Regions from separate parts of the Homo sapiens genome. Here region 2 is linked to region 1. A link means that fine-mapping ties the variant in region 1 to the expression of a gene that starts in the linked region. Tissue or cell type: whole blood. Region 1 holds a variant in brackets; the other region holds the start of a gene. All regions are shown on one strand. Distances are from middle to middle.

Evidence for each region. PIP is the estimated chance that this variant, and not a neighbour inherited with it, causes the effect.
Region 2: it holds the start of AIMP1, and the variant in region 1 is fine-mapped to the expression of AIMP1 in whole blood (TOPMed, PIP above 0.99).

The regions. Positions count from the first base shown.
Region 1 is chr4:106,233,659-106,241,658 of GRCh38, forward strand. TBCK (TBC1 domain containing kinase) reads right to left here. Exons shown (of 26, transcript NM_001163435.3): 13 at 3,101-3,150; 14 at 2,732-2,861; 15 at 1,611-1,709. Among named protein-coding and RNA genes, the nearest start is that of TBCK, 79 kb to the right of the region's middle. The variant C/T (reference allele first, on the strand shown) is at 4,008.
Region 2 is chr4:106,311,705-106,319,856 of GRCh38, forward strand. It overlaps AIMP1 (aminoacyl tRNA synthetase complex interacting multifunctional protein 1), which reads left to right and starts at 4,846. Exons shown (of 7, transcript NM_001142416.2): 1 at 4,846-4,890. It overlaps TBCK (TBC1 domain containing kinase), which reads right to left and starts at 4,505. Exons shown (of 26, transcript NM_001163435.3): 1 at 4,227-4,505. RefSeq lists enhancers at 4,085-4,174, 4,255-4,314, 4,805-5,054.

The DNA of each region.
Region 1 (8,000 bases):
AATAAAAGAAGATATATTAATTTATCATATCCTTAATACAAATAGTAATATAGAGAAATCTATTTTTTACAAATATCTATCTTTGGAAACCTACCCAACTACAGATAAGCACATTCAAACTCAGGGTAGAACTCATCTTAAGAGAAATTCTCTGTGTCTTTGACAATCTGTGATGAAGGTCTCTGATAAGTGACAATTTGCCATTTTGCTGAGGCAAACTCTTGAATTATACATACCAGAACATAAATGTCATGGATTAATTACTTAGCTAGTAAGTATGTTTGGCCAACCTCCCAGACCCTACAACATAACACAACCTTGTTATGTTATATCTATAATTACATGATAGAATCATTAGGGCCTAAAGAGGTCATTTACGCTTTTCAGTTAGACTGTTAAAATTTAGAAATAACTGAATGAACGACTACAAATTTTGGTCGTGTTCTATAGGACCAAGCATGAAAAAAATATTATTATTCTGGCTTATTATCATGGTAGAGAAAGAGCCAGGAAGTAGGGTTCAAACTCCAATATCGGCTATTATCAACTTCTTTGAGACATTAATTTAATGAGAGTTGGACAACCTGATACCTGAAGTCCTCTTGAACTTTAGCATTATATTGTTCTACAAGTCTAATGATTAATGTATGATATTGAACAATTGGCATTCTTGTAAAGTAACCAACTAAACTCAAAGGTATTTGTAGACTCTTATCAAGGGAATCAGGAATGAAGAAAGGAAATTCTTCAAACAGAGGATTGAAAAGGATTAAAAATAGTTGAGGATTTCTAAAAATTTTTTAGAGTCAGGGTCTAGTTCTATCACCCAGGCTAGAGTGCAGTGGCACAACCAAGGTTCACTGCAGCCTCGAACTCCTGGGCTCAAGTAATCCTTCTGCCTCAGCTTTCCAAGAAGCTGGGACCACAGGCATGTGCCACCATTCCAGACTGGAATTCTTTAAAAAGGAAGGATAATTATCTATAAGAGAATATAAGAAGACAAGATGACAAAGAAATTGACAAGAAATGAAAAAAATCTGGCAAGAATTTGGCCCATTATTATGATTGATGTCATCGGAGTTCTCTGTTAGTATTGCAGGCCACCATAATTTGTGACACATCTTTCCTCACAACCACAGAGAAAGTGCTATTTCTCTTGGTAGCATAGTCCAGGTGGAATAGGTGTGCCAAAAGTCACTAAATTATGTTAGTGATTTTGACAAGTCAGATTAGATGGAAAGATTTCTCCAAATTTAGACAGAACCATTTATAAACAATCATATTCTATAACAAGCATACTTTATAAGCAGGACTACCCATTTATAACTGATATATATTCTTAAAATATTCTATGGTAATAATCAAAACATTTTCTGTGACCACTATTAAATGAAACATTAAATAGCATAATCTAATAAACCCTCCATTATATTTTTCTATTCTATTGTTTTCCTATATTCTTTCCACTTAAAATTGCCAAATATTCTAATGCTTATATTTTACTATATAATTTTCTAATAACTAGAAAAATATATATTTGGAAAGCACTCTCCTTCTCCATCCTTTCTTTGCATAATTAATCAGCTTCTAACCTTTTCTTTTTTCCTTACCTCAACTCCCAGAAGAGCAGCCCAGGTTAAACCTCTCATAAGAGGAGGAATGTCAACTCTTGCTTCTTTCCAGATTTGGTTTTTTTTATATGGATAAGCCTATGATATCAAAAAAGAAATGAAAACGTCTCAAATTACCTAGTGCCATCTTTTAGTCTAGACAGTTCTGAATATACCCATGATAAAACTTAAGTGACTTGCAATAAATTTCAAAGTATGTGCAATTATTGTGTCTGGTGTTATTAATACACATAAATAAGCAGTAGAATGAATGAATCCCTAACACCTTGAAAAACTCGTATTATATAATTAAGAAGAGCAGCTGATTCTACCTGATTTTTAATCCTTCCTCTCTATTTGATGCTCTGGGGGGATTTTAAATGAGTCAGATGGAGGATAATAGTACCAGTCTCATACGGGTTAAATAAGATAATGCAGGTAAAGCACTCTGTTAAAAACGTGGTGATAGAGAAGTGATCAATAACTATAAGCTACTATTATGAGTACTTCCGCATTTTGCATATAAATTTATACTTTTATAAATTTGTGTCTTAGGAGAAATTTCTAGAAGAGTATTAATAGGACAAAGGCAACAGATGTTGTTAAGGTTCTTGATATATGCATTCAAATTGTTTTACAAAATGTTTCAGTACATTCACATTTATTCCAACAGAATGAGAGTTCCAATATCATTGCATCTGTGCTCACTTTGCTAATGCAGTATGGAAAATCACTCCTATTTTAATTTGTATTTTTTTCATTCCCAGTGAAGATGAACAATTTGCATAGATTTACTAGCTGTATTTATATTATGTACTCTATCCATTTCTCTGTTTCAATATTGATGTTTTTCCTGTTGACTTTTAAGTCTTCTTTTAAAAAATAAAGACATTATTCCTTTTTTAACATGATTTTGCATATGTTACCACACCTTGTTTTTACTTTTTAATTTTACTTACTAAGAACATGTATCATTTTTAAAATGAAAGAAAGCTAACTGAACAAGATAGGTCATAAAAATTAATCTTCTTATTACTCAAGATTCCCTAAGAATTATTGAAAAAATTAAAAAAAAATTCCATATGGGCTATTGTTAACACTTTATACTTTAGAATCCATACCTTTAGCAGCCTGTCGAAGAGAATAATTCTATTTAGTTGGTACTCTGTATCCTTCTCTCTGATGATTAAAGGGAGCGTGGCAGCTGCAGACAACTCATTATTGCTGTTTGAATGAGGTAAATTAGACTGGCTGTAAAAGAGAACAAAAGCAATAAAAAAAAAAAATGGACAAAAGGTACAAAATTTTCTTTTTTTTTCCTAACTCTACCAACAGTGATTTCAGAAAAAGCACAAAATTTTAATAAACCAAAACCTCAGGTTATTATTTTCTATTTAGGAAACATTTTTCAAAGAAAATGTATAAAATTCTTATAAATCTAATATAAATAGAAAGAAAAATAAATCTAAAATGAGACTACATATACTCACTCATCTTCAAGTAATGGGTAAAATGCTTCTCCACCAACATCTTTCAATCTCTGTGTATTTAAAGACAAAATATTTATGTATAAACATATTGGGCAGAAACCCTGATCTGTGTTTAAAAAGACAAGTAATATAACAACTATAAATTTATAAAGGGACCTAGAAAAGTATAAAATAGAGTCTAAAAATCAGTTCTTACCATAAACATGCAAGCATACAATGCCTCTACTGATTACGGTTTGGCTGTGAAAAACAACTATTTTTTTCTTATCTATAGGTATCACTCATAAATGTTAGACACTTATCATGATATATTTTCCAAACAGAACTCAGAATTACTAGCACTAGTATAAAACTTAATGAATGGGAAAAAAATTTTAAGTTATATGAAGAAAGATGATTAAAAAGAGGTACTATATAGCCATGTATATACTAAAAGAACAACTTAGATTTATTTTTGCTTTGGCATAATACAAGCTAAGTCAAAAAGAAAGGTGCTAGAAAAAGGATTCCAAAATATTTCTCACATCATACTTTGAACATGTATGATTCAAATAGCTAATAAATCAATGGAGAGAGTTCACTTAATGACAAAATCATTTTAATAAATGTTGTTCCAAATAACAACCCTGACAGGATTACAGGTATTCTTCAAAATCATAAGCAGGAAGGCAGTAGTAAAGTAAAATGTTAACCACATCCTAAGCAAGGTGATTAAAGTTAATGCCATCTTGCCTGCTGCTCTGCTGTTCAACTTCCAACTTGAAGGCAGAATGTCTGCTCCTATGGGGATTGACATAGAAATTCAAGCTGTGTGTGCAGCAAGCACTGATCTTCTGCTGATTAGAGTCTTTGTGCACCCATGTGAGTTATTCCCAGAATTTTTAAAGCTTAAGAAAAATCTTTTACT[C/T]AAACTAAGAATTCAGCAAACACTGAATTTATGCCTGGTTCTACTCTAAAAATCAATGTGCTATGTACTTATCCTATTTTAAAAAACCTTTAGGTATATCTTTCATATATTAAAATTTTAAGTTAGGAAATAAAATTTTCCCAAGTTTTACTGCATTATTAATACACATAAATCTTTTTAAAGATTAGTTTTCAGTATACTGTATGTCATAGATTTTATCTAATTAAGTATCTTGTCTGTCTTTTCTAAATAAAAACTTAGCACATTAGGATTTTTAAAAGGTGAATGAAAACACTAAAGATAAAAATTATTATATGGTTTCCATATCATTTTAAGATTCAGCAAATTAATATTTCTTAATAACTACAGAAGAAGAGTATTTTAAATTTCACAAGTAGAACTGTAAAGGAATTGAGACATTTAGATTTGAAGCCTACATTCATTTAACTTGGATTATATTTAAATTGAAGAAACAAATTAAGAGCAAAACAAAATCAGCTGAAATCATATATTTTGGATGTAATTTATTGTTCGCTGCAGGGTATTATTACTTATTTTGTTACTTTCCACATCCTTTCTTTCAAAGAGATTATAAATTCAGAGTACTGAGTAGGAATAGTTATATATTTTAATTTTCTGTTGCTGGCATTATGGCAGACAAGAGATTCTAATACTCTCCTACTATATAACATGTAAAATATTAAATGGTTAGATAAGCTTTAAAACATAAGGAAAATGCAGTGATAACAGATATAAAACCAGGCCTAGAGAGAAAGTAGTTAATAACTGTGGTCTAGAGATTTAGACCATAATGGGATAAGGGTTTGGGAACCTACATAACAGACCTTCAGAATGGAGAAGACCCTTCTAAAGCCACGTAAAGAAAAAACTAGGGGAATTGCTGGCTTAGACAGAAAACAAGGATAGGTACCTATTTCAGCTTTGGCTATGAATGGTTAAAAATAAAAAGGCTAGGACTTCCACTTTCTTATACAAAATATAAACAGCTTAGAAGGCATCATTCTTCCTCTAACAAGAAAAATGCTGAACAAACTGAAAATCAAGAACTCGTCTCACATCTGTCAGAATCAGAGCATTGTGATGTCCTCAAAGCTGGAGGGACCCTCGAATACAGGGAATCACAGCTCAACAGGAACAGAGCCACTGCTGGAGTCTGTTAAGATCAATTAAAAGGTAATTATCTAATACTTGCAGGCTGAGCACAGACTAATACGAGAGAGAAAAACTTCTGGAGGCCCTGCCTTAGGGAGGCCTTCCTTGCTTCCATGAGATTAACCTCTGCAGGTCCCACCAGGTTCTCAGGGTGAAGATCTGAGAAAAATACCCTTGACTTCCTGCAGGGGGAGGTGGAAAGTAACCAATCTGAAATACAGCCAGAGTACTCTGTTTTCCTTGAGAGGCCTGTCTTAAAGGGAAACTCTTCGGTCAGGTCTTAACTAACTTGGGTTTTACAGAAATCTAACCAACTTGGGAAGGAAATATTCAACTCCAGTCCACTCTAGTCTTTGATGTAGGGGAACAGAAATACCCAACTCCAGCCCCTCTAGCTTTCCTGTCTCATGTTGGGGAGGAGGAGTGGGAGAAGCTGAGAAGCCTTGTGAAGGTCACAGCCCAGGAACACAGGCTCACTAAAAAACTGGGACTTAATGATAAGATTATAAAATACTTCTCCCCTATACTTTACTATGATATTAATAGGGCTTCTACATAATAACAGGATTCATTCCTTCATTTAGTTATTATATAGGAAGAAAACATATAACACATCAAATGAAGAGAAGTACAATGGAGGAAAAAAACAAAACAGGATAAAGAATACAAGGGATAGGTGTGGCGTTGCTATTTTATAAAGGATGGCCAACAAAAGCCCACCAATAGGTGACATTTTAGCAGAGAATGTAAAGAAAAGAAATGGAAGCACCGGAAGAGTGTTACAGGCAGTGGGAAGAGCAAGTTTAAAGGCCTTAAAACATATAACTTTAGAAAATGATTTAAAAACAAAATAAACAACCTGAGTAAACTTATAACCATTAAGCAGACTGAAGTAATGATTACACCCAAATAGGGATAAGGAGCCCTTACAATATGGTTTTAAAGCTAACTCCCATGAAACATTCAAGAAATAGATACATGTAATCATATAAAGTCTTTCAGAAAATAGAAAAAAAAAGGCAACACTCTCCTATTTATTTTATGAGACTAGTATACCCCTGATACCAAACTAGCATCGTGCAGTAAAAGAAAAGAAACTCACAGGCCTATCTCAAATAGAAACAGAAATGCAAAAATTCTAAACAAAATATTAGAAAATCAAAACACAAATGTATAAAAAAGGAAAAATGAAATCATGATCTGTTTGGGTTTATCCCAGAAATACAAACATGGCTCAACATTGAAAAACCCCATCAACATAATTAAATCCATTAACATAATACATAAAAAAGCATATGACCATCCCAATAGATACAGTAAAAACACTCAGTGAAATTCAACACCCATTCATAACAAAACTTATAACTAAGAATAGAAGACCTCTATAACTCAATGCAACAAATATCATACTTAATTATGAAATATAAAAAGCAAACTTTTAAAACCAGAAATTAGACAGGAGTGCCCACTATTTGTTTCTATTCAATAGCGTTATAGACGCTCAGCAAAAATAATGAGAAAAGATGAAGTGAGTAGATAAGAATTTGGAAATGAAGGAAAAAACCCTACCTTAATTCACAAAGAAAACCACAGGGAATCTATAGACATATTATTTAAAAAAGAATAGGTTCAGCAATGTTGCCTGACACAAAATCCACATAAAAAAATCAATTGTGTTACTAATCATGCACAAAACAGTAGTTGAAATAGTATTTTAAAAAATATTATTGATTTATTTTTTAAAATCCTCTACTGGTATACTTAAGATTTGGTACATTTTACTACATGAAAAAATATTATTGATGTATATTTTAAACTCATCTACTGGTATACTTAAGATCTATACATTTTACTATATGAAAATTTTGCCTAGAAAAGAACTATAAACAAATCTTAAACTCTAATGTGTAAGCTGAATTGTAGTAATGTCTTCATTTTACTTTGAAATGCAAGAACAAAAAATATGATGGATTGATGAATAGCTAGAAAGATAGACATGTGATAAAGCATGTAAAATGTTAATTATAGAATCTAGGTCAGGGATTAGCAAACTGTTTCTATGCAGGGCCATATGACAAATATTTTTAGCTTTGTGGGCCATGCAGTCTCTATCGCAACTACTCAATTCTGCCAATGCAGAACAAAACAGCTATACATAATAGGTCAATGAATAGGTGTGACTTGATTTTGCTAATAGATCATATCAATGCTTGATGTAGGTGGTAAGTTGTTCACTGTAAATGCTTTTCAACTTTTCTGTTTAAAAATTTTTATAATAAAATGTTGGAAAAAATCATACTCATACTTACATATATATATATATTCTATATACAAGAGCAATAATAAATTACCTTAGAAATAAATCTGATAACTGATATACAGACATTAAAAATAAAATTGTTATATAAAATAAGACAAATAAATGACATATTTATTTAAGCATGTTCAAGAAATAAAACCCTACATTTTAAATACATCAATTCTCTACAAATTAACTTATCAATTCAATGCAATGTCAATCAAAACCCTATAATTTTTTATGAAGTTCTTTATGATGATTATAAAAATCAGCTAGTAGAGGAAGATGTTAAAGAGTTCCTACTCCATTTTGAGGACAAAAAAACTGAAGGTCTTCCCTTGCTAGATATCAACAGTTCACATAAAACTACAGATTAAGGCAATGTGGTATTTGCTAAAATTAGAAAAACAGGCCAACAAATCAGAATATCAAGGCCCAGAAACATATCCATATACATAGAAAAAGTTGGTATTATAGATCAAAAAAGTGAAGAGAAAACTATTCAATATATGGTACTGAGA
Region 2 (8,152 bases), 78 kb after region 1:
GTAATTTCCATGCTCTGTATCTATATTTATCTACATATGTGTGTGTTAATACCACATATTTCATAATTAAAAGAATTTAAATAAAATAAATTGATTCTCAACAAAAGCAAAAGAGTTCAACAGGAAAAGGAAAGTCCTTTTTACAAATGGTGCTGGAAAAAGATATTCATATAAAAAAATAATAACCTCAACTTCTACTGATACATCCACAAAAATCTAAGATGGAACATAGGCTTAAGCGTAAAAGGTAAAACTGTTAGTCTTCTAATTGAAAACATAAGCGAATATCTTTACAACCTTAGGCTAGGCAAAGATTTCTTAGACACAATAGAACAAAGCACTAGCCACAAAAGACAATTTTGACAAAGTAGACTTCATCAAAATTAAAAACATCTGCATATCCAAAGGCACCCCTGAGAAAATAAAAATTCGAGTTAAAGGGAAATATTATTTACATCTGTCTGTATATACATATGACATTATGTATATATATGACCTTTTAAAATCAAACATATGTGTGTCTGTATATAATTGACCTGTATTCGGAGTCTATAAAGAAATACCACAATTCAATAATAAAACAAGCCAATACATAAATAGGTAAAAGTCACAAACATATTTTCACACAAGGCATGAAAATAATAAGCACATGAAAAAGTTCTTAATATCATTAATTGGGGGAAATGCAAATGAAAATCACAATGACAAACCTTTAACTTCTACAATGGCTAAAATTTAAATGACTGGCAGTAACAAGTGTTGAGAATGTGGAAGTGGAGCTTTGCTATATTGCTAGTGGGAGCGTAAAATGGCAAAAGAATTTTGGAAAATATTTGGAAAACTTTTCTAAAGTTAAAAATATCCCTAACTTATGACTCAGAAATTCCACTCTTTAACCAAGAAAAATGAAAACATTTGTCCATAAAAAAAAACACTGTATGAGTATGTTCATAGGAACTGTACTCTTAATAGCTAAAAACCAGAAGCAATGCAAATGTCCCATAAGTGAATCAATTAACATATTTGTACCATGAAATTCTATTTAACAAAAATGGAACAAACATGTCAAAACATGGATATACTCAAAAACATAAAGTTTATGAAAGAAGCAGACACAAAAGAGTTCATACTGTATGACTCCATTTAAATGTAATTCCAGAACTATAGTTCTAAACTATAGTATTAATAAAAAAATCAGAAGATAGTACTGTAGATGGGGGAGAGGGGTTGAATAAGCAGAGAAACAGAGGAACTTTCTGTAGTGGTAGAAATATTCTCTATCTCGATTGTGGTGGTAGTGGTTTTATGGATGAGTACATGCATCAAAACTCATTAAATTGGCCACTTAAAATCAATGTGTTTTAATATGTATCAAATTTTATCTCACACAAAATAAAACAGCTTATGAGAAGATAAACACTGCTATACATTTTCAAAGCATCAAACGTAACTAGAAAATTGTAAACATTTCAGACAGAAAAAACTGATTCTGCTATCAACAAGTTAAAGTGAGACTGGCATTCTCATCAGCAATAATGAAAGTCAGAAGAGAGCCTGGTGCAGTGGCTTGTGCCTGTGATCCCAGATACTTGAGAGGCTGAGGTGGGAGGATCACGTGAGGTCAGGAGTTTCAGACCAGACTGAGCAACACAGTGAGACTCCAGCTCAAAAAAAAGGAAAAAAAAAAAGTTAGAAGACATGGAAGGATTGAGAGTTGAAGGAAAATACTTTTGATTCTATATACAGCCAAATTATCAGTCATAAGAGCAAATTATAATTTACAGCTATACGAACATTAAAAAATAAAATTACCTTTCACTTGCCTTTTGTGAGCAAGTTTCCTTAGGATATATTCCAGGGAAATAGGGGGAAGCCCAATAACAGAAGATGAGGGGCTAAGAAACAATGTTATTTACCCAAGAATGAATATAAGCCCAGGATAGGAGCAATACAAAAGGACTAGAATGCAATCTGTTCAAATTAAACAGAAAGCCATTGGGCTTTAAGGGGAAAATCTTCAAACAGAGGAATGGAAGCTTGCTTCTATGTGCATCATACAAAGAATGAGAAGATTCAGTGAAGAAAGCACATCCACCTACCTATTCCCCAGGAGAAAGCAGAAAGGCAATTAAGAAAGTGGGGACGGTTAAAAACTATGTATTACATACTCCAAAATATAAAGCATGCTCAACTACAGCATATTTTGCCCTTGGCAGGAAAGAAATAAAAACCCATTTGACCTTGATATCATAAATAATCTCCTTAGTATGGCACAGGGATCATGAAGTTAAAACTCTGGGGAAAAAAACATATCAGAGCATACAGCTTGGACTTGCTCTAAGTAACAACTATAAAGCCATAATACTGTAAACATTTTATTTTTTTTATTGGTTTTTGGCACGTGAATAAAGCGCAAATGTTATAGTTAAGAAATATATTACTAACTTTGACAATGTACAAGTAAATGTCCAGCTAAGAGAAAGTGGGCATAAATGTAGTTTCTGAAGTGATAAAGAAAAAGGTAGAATCACTACTTTTCTCGTTTTACCAAACAAGGAGTCAAATATATTTTCAAAAGTTGATGTGAAAAAAGTAGTTTACGTATATTATTTTGAATTATAAAGTAACCAATACAAAAACTAAAAATTATGATTATGACTCTTCCAAAATTCAGAGGAGATTGTGAATGGTGTGGGCTATTTCTAGAAGTCAACGGAAAAAGAATTAGCAGTTCAACTTAGGGCTATCTCAAGAAGTCAACAAAAAGAATTAACAGTTTAACTTATTATTTAACCTACAGACCTAAAATTAGAAAAGGTTAAAAGTGGTTATCTTTGAAGAACAGTACTGAGAGTAGGACAGGTGAGACAGTTGCACTTTATTATTCAATCCTACTACGCTATACTACTTGATTTTTTTTTTTTTTTTTTTTTTTTTTGAGACAGAGTCTCACTCTGTCATCAAGGCTGGAGTGCAGTGGCATGATCTCGGCTCACTGCATCCTTCCACCTCCCGGGTTCAAGCGATTCTGTGCCTCAGCCTCCAGAGTGGCTGGGATTACAGGCGCCCGCCACCACGCCCGGCTAATTTTTGTATTTTTAGTAGAGACGGGGTTTCACCATCCTGGCCAGGCTGGTCTTGAACTCCTGACCTCAGGTGATCCACCCGCCTCGACCTCCCAAAGTGCTAGGACTACAGGCGTGAGCCACCGCGCCCGACCATTTTATTTTCAATCAGATGTCTTTATCATCACATAGCTGAAAATAAAATAACCAAATAAAACACAATGATCGAAAAAGATAAAACACTAATTAGCATAATCAGTGTTCTTTTTCCACTACCTCTTAAATGGTTGTACATAAAAAGGCTCACACACAAAAATACACACACATACATTCACTTACACCTCGTGAGTGGAAGAAAACTACCGGGGGAAAAAAAACGTAGAGATGAGAGATTAGATGAGGGAAACAGCAGTGCAAGCAGTTGGGCTTGAAAATTCATTCATTCAACAAATATTTTGAAGCCCCTATTTTAAGTCAGTTGTTTTTCCAGCTGGTGGGCAAAGGATAATGAACAAGTCAGACTCTGTGCCCTCAAAGAACTTAGAGTTTTAAACGACTCGAATGGGGAAAGAAAGTAAAAAATAGGGCAAAAGACGCCGATTTTATCATGAATAAAATTTCACATTTCTTCAACAGGAAAATGATACTAATTCATTTATTTTATATATACATTCTCTCAAGAGGTTATTTTTGTCTCAAATAGATAGAAACCAGGACAGGGATCCTTGAAAAGCAGCCACTGACAATCCTCAAGTAACTTCCTTCCTCTGCTTCACTTTCTCCTACTGCTCAAGGGGGTGTTACACTTTGACGACTGACTAAACCTCGAGGGCCAGAAACAAACCAAAGCAAAATTCTGCCTCCAAGGTGAGTAATGGAGGGGCGGATTCTAGATTCTCTAACCTCCTTTAGCCTTCCTTTGAGGCAGTGACAGAGCGATTACTAAGCCTACGGTTCCCAAACGACTCAGGTGAACCTGATTTACAGGAAAGGCGGGCTGTAGCTAGGGATGGAGACAGTACCTATCAGCAAGCGGCTCCACAGCTCGGTTCTCTATCTATTCTGAAGACATGCGGGGCCACTCACTGCTCCTGATAGTCCTCTACCTCCCACAGACCCCACCCACTACGACACGGAAAACTGGATTACCCAAATACCTGCCTCTGAGTCTGGGGACGCAGGCAAGCACAAAGACAAGGGGGATGGAGCTTCTACACAGGGCCCCAGCGCTGTCGCTGTGGCTGCTGCTGCCGCTACGGCTTAGTGCACCAGACGCTGCATTTCAGGTGCTCCTACAAAAGAGGCCACTCCTGGAACGCCGGGAGCTCAGACGCTGCCCTTTGCTCGCGAGCCAAGTCAGCCAAGGTTAACCTTCGCGGAACCCGGCGAGGAGCGCAAGCCTGGCCTTCCCCAAACACAGATCCGAGCTTTTCACCCTCTACCCTCCCCTCAGCCTGGCCTTTTCTTCCGCCCTCACAGCCACCGCGACCCAACGCTGAGGAAAGACCCCGACTTGTGGTGTCCTTCCCCTTGCCCAAACTGGCCACGAAAGGACATATAGCGAGAGAGAAAGAGGTGCGGGGGGACGGGGGGGGTCGATTGAAAATACTGGGTGAGGGAATGGAAGACGAGGAGCGTGGTATGGCAGGTTAATGGGACTGAGCACAGGAAGAGGAAGAAAGAATTGAGGGTTGAATCTGTAGAACACTCAGGCTTTCAGCAAGGACACCTCATTGGGTCCTTTCTCACTGCTATAGTACGCGGGTGGCTGGACCTACATGCTTCCTGCTGTGGCTGTCTCGGAACCCGTGGTCCTCCGCTTCATGTGAGTGACGTCGTGGCGGGTCACTCACTCGGGGATCGCCGATTGCGATCGTAGGGGTCTTCCTTCTCTAACTTGCCTCCAGGAGAGAGGACCTGGCCTGCGCTGCTAATGGGTAGTCCGTTCGCAGCAGGACCAGCCCTGGCCTAAGGAAACAGGAAAGAGTTTGAGACTTCCTTCTAAAGGAGCCACGTTTGAGAAATGGGATGCAGGCCTAAGTTAAGAATGCTACAGAAAAATATCGATCCCTAAGCGTATTTACTGTTATGTGAATGTGTGTGTCAAAGGACTTAGGTGCTTTGGGGGAGAGGAGGGTGAAGACAGGAATTTATTCATTGAGCGAATAGTTATTAAGCGCCCACTCTATTCCAGACACCGTTCTAGGCATTAGGTGAACAGCAGTGAACAAAACAGACGGAAATCTGTGTCTACTTGTAGCTCACATTTTAGAGAGGAAGGCACATACTAAGCAAAGTAATTAGAAACATACTGTATTTTAGGTCGTGATAGTCCTGAAGAGAAACGTAAAGCAGGGAAGAAGGGTATAAAGTGACACAGGAAGGTCTTGCTGAAAAGATGACTTTTAAGTAAAGGGCTGACAGAAGTGGGAGATTTAACCACGCGAATATCTTGGGAAAGTGCAGTCAGACAGAGGGACCAGCCATTGCAGAGGTCATGAAGCAGAAACGTGCTAGAATAGCAAGGAGGCCTGTAGGGCAGAGTTGAGTGAAGGGTTTAGTCCTTCACTGGAGATTAAATCAAGGCGAGCAGGTCATGAAGATCTTGAGGACATCTAACTTTTATTCTAAATGAAATAGGACTTTGGAGCGTTTTGAGCAGTAGAGTGATGGGCTCTGACTTCCTTTTAAGAGGGTCACTCTTTAAGGAAAATACACAGAGGAGGACGTGGTAGGAGAAAGGAGACCAATAAGAAGAGTTTTGCAATAATCCAGAGGAAGCATAATGGTGGTTTGACTATGGGTGGTAAGAAATGGCCAGTTATATTCTTGATGCACTTAATTTGGATATGTAAGAGTATTATAGATGACAGGGTTAATTTTATTTAATTAGGCTTTGGAGGACACTTGAAAAATGAATTCCAGTGTGAGTTTCAGAGTGGCAAACACAAGTTAAAATCATGGCTTTGCTATGTGGTACTTGAAGGGATTCAGATAAGTCATGTAATTTTCCTGGATCTGTCTATAAAATGGAAATCACATCTGTCAAGATTGCAAAGGTTAGGGTATATTATAGGTATTTAATGACAAGGTATGTAATGGGTCTAGTCTGCAAATCTTAACCAGGTAAAAGATGGCCTTATTGTGAGGTAAGAGGGTCATGGGAGGCCAAGGCATACTCCTTTTTAAATTTTATGGACTCTGTACTGGGGAGGAAAGTTTTTGTGTTAATGACGATGGTATTTAGAAATGCATGGACTGGCCTCTCATAGCTGTCCACCCTATAGTCATTCCTTATAGCCATCCTTTAAACCCTCCAGGACCCCCTATGTCCTCATCAGTAAAGGGAAAGCAGGCTGTCTGGTAAGGGAAATAGGAACTTCCATAAAAAAGCAATTTTAGATATTCTTTTTATAGGTTTTGGCAAAGGTTGATAAAAGACCTAGGGAATTACTGCTGGTTGCTGCGCTTACATATTTTGAGTGTCTTCAGATGCATTGTTCTCAGTGTATTTAATTTTCTTCTTTAAATTCTGACTTTTGACACATATGATTTAAATCCTAGCAGGAATTTTCACCTAGTGCTAAAAGGTACCACATTGCTTTACACTATAATAAGGACGGTCTTTCAGTGTGGGGTATTTTATGTATACTATAATATTTTTACATATCCAGTAATTAGATTGTGTAGCAAATCAGGGAAAGAAGTTGGAAGGCAAGAATAGGAATGAAGGGAGGAGAAGAAAGGAAGAAAATGATTAAAATTACTATATTCCATCAATTCTGAGATACACATTTTTCTCTTACTTAACATCTCTGAAATAGGGATGTATTTTTAAGTTGTTGACATCTTTAAATCACTGTAGATGAATTGGCAGTTGTGAGATATTTGTCATTGCCCACACTTACACCCACTTAGTCATAACTTAATCTTGTCATTATTTCAGTTGAGTTATATATGCACTATTGGCATATAGTTGTTGAGTGTAATTTCCCTTTTAAAGATCATTTAGAAGATTATGATTAGCATTAGAATGAAAAGTTACTGTGTATGTGGGGAAACAAAGGGTGATACAAGATAAAAATCCAGGGTTAAATTTAAAAGAAGTCTGTCAATAAATAATATAGGATGTGTCTAAGTAATAAGAAAGCATTGGGTCAGTTGATTCAATAGTGTTTTTTTTCATAATGTACATAAAATAATAGAGCTTCTTGGGATTGAAGCCATTTTACAATTGATGGCATTTTAGATTTCTTGTATAGTATTTAAAGCTTCCAACAAAAATGTAAATTTTTACCTACTGTAATTCTGAAATAGGGAAATTAGAGGTTTTGAGTAGAGACACTTTCAAATTTGTGTAGCGTTCCTATATAGCATAAGAATTCTAAAATTAAAAGTCTGCCTGTAAAACTTTGATTTCAAAGTAGTAACTTACTTATGTTTGATTCCCAATGTTGTCATCGTGGGGCAGAGATTTTGCTTTTTCAAAAAGATTGCAGGCAATTTAGATGGTGTGGGTGGGGAGGACTACTGAGGAAATTGCTCAGTAAACAAAAATGATAGTGAAGATCTCAGAATCTCAAAAATCATCTTTTGTGTGTGTATTTTAATGATTAAGATGTACTATAAATTCATGTACAGTATTTGGGATTCTGCATTAGAGGCATCGTATGATTAATGGCTTTTTAGGTTTGATGAAGTATGATAATTAACATTGAGAAGGACAAAATTAATGTGAAGGGACAGAATGATTTAGATAATATGTTTCAAAAGCTTTTGTCCTAAAAAATGCATTATTACCATTTTAATTTAGTAAAGGAAAAAGAAAAGGTCTTGATCCTCACCAAACACAATTAACATACTTGGTCTACAGTTTTCTGTGCTTCTCTCTTCATAAATGTTTTATATTTTCAATTACTGTGCATGTCATTCTTATATCTATTTTAATCTCACAGTCTTAATTTTTTTACATTTTAGTCCAGAGACTTAAACTAGCATTTCCTAAACTGTTTTAGAGAATACTAGTTCAAATAAATGTTAATAGCTGTTCCTGTGTTAGGATTCTGTCATTAAATATATTGGAAAAT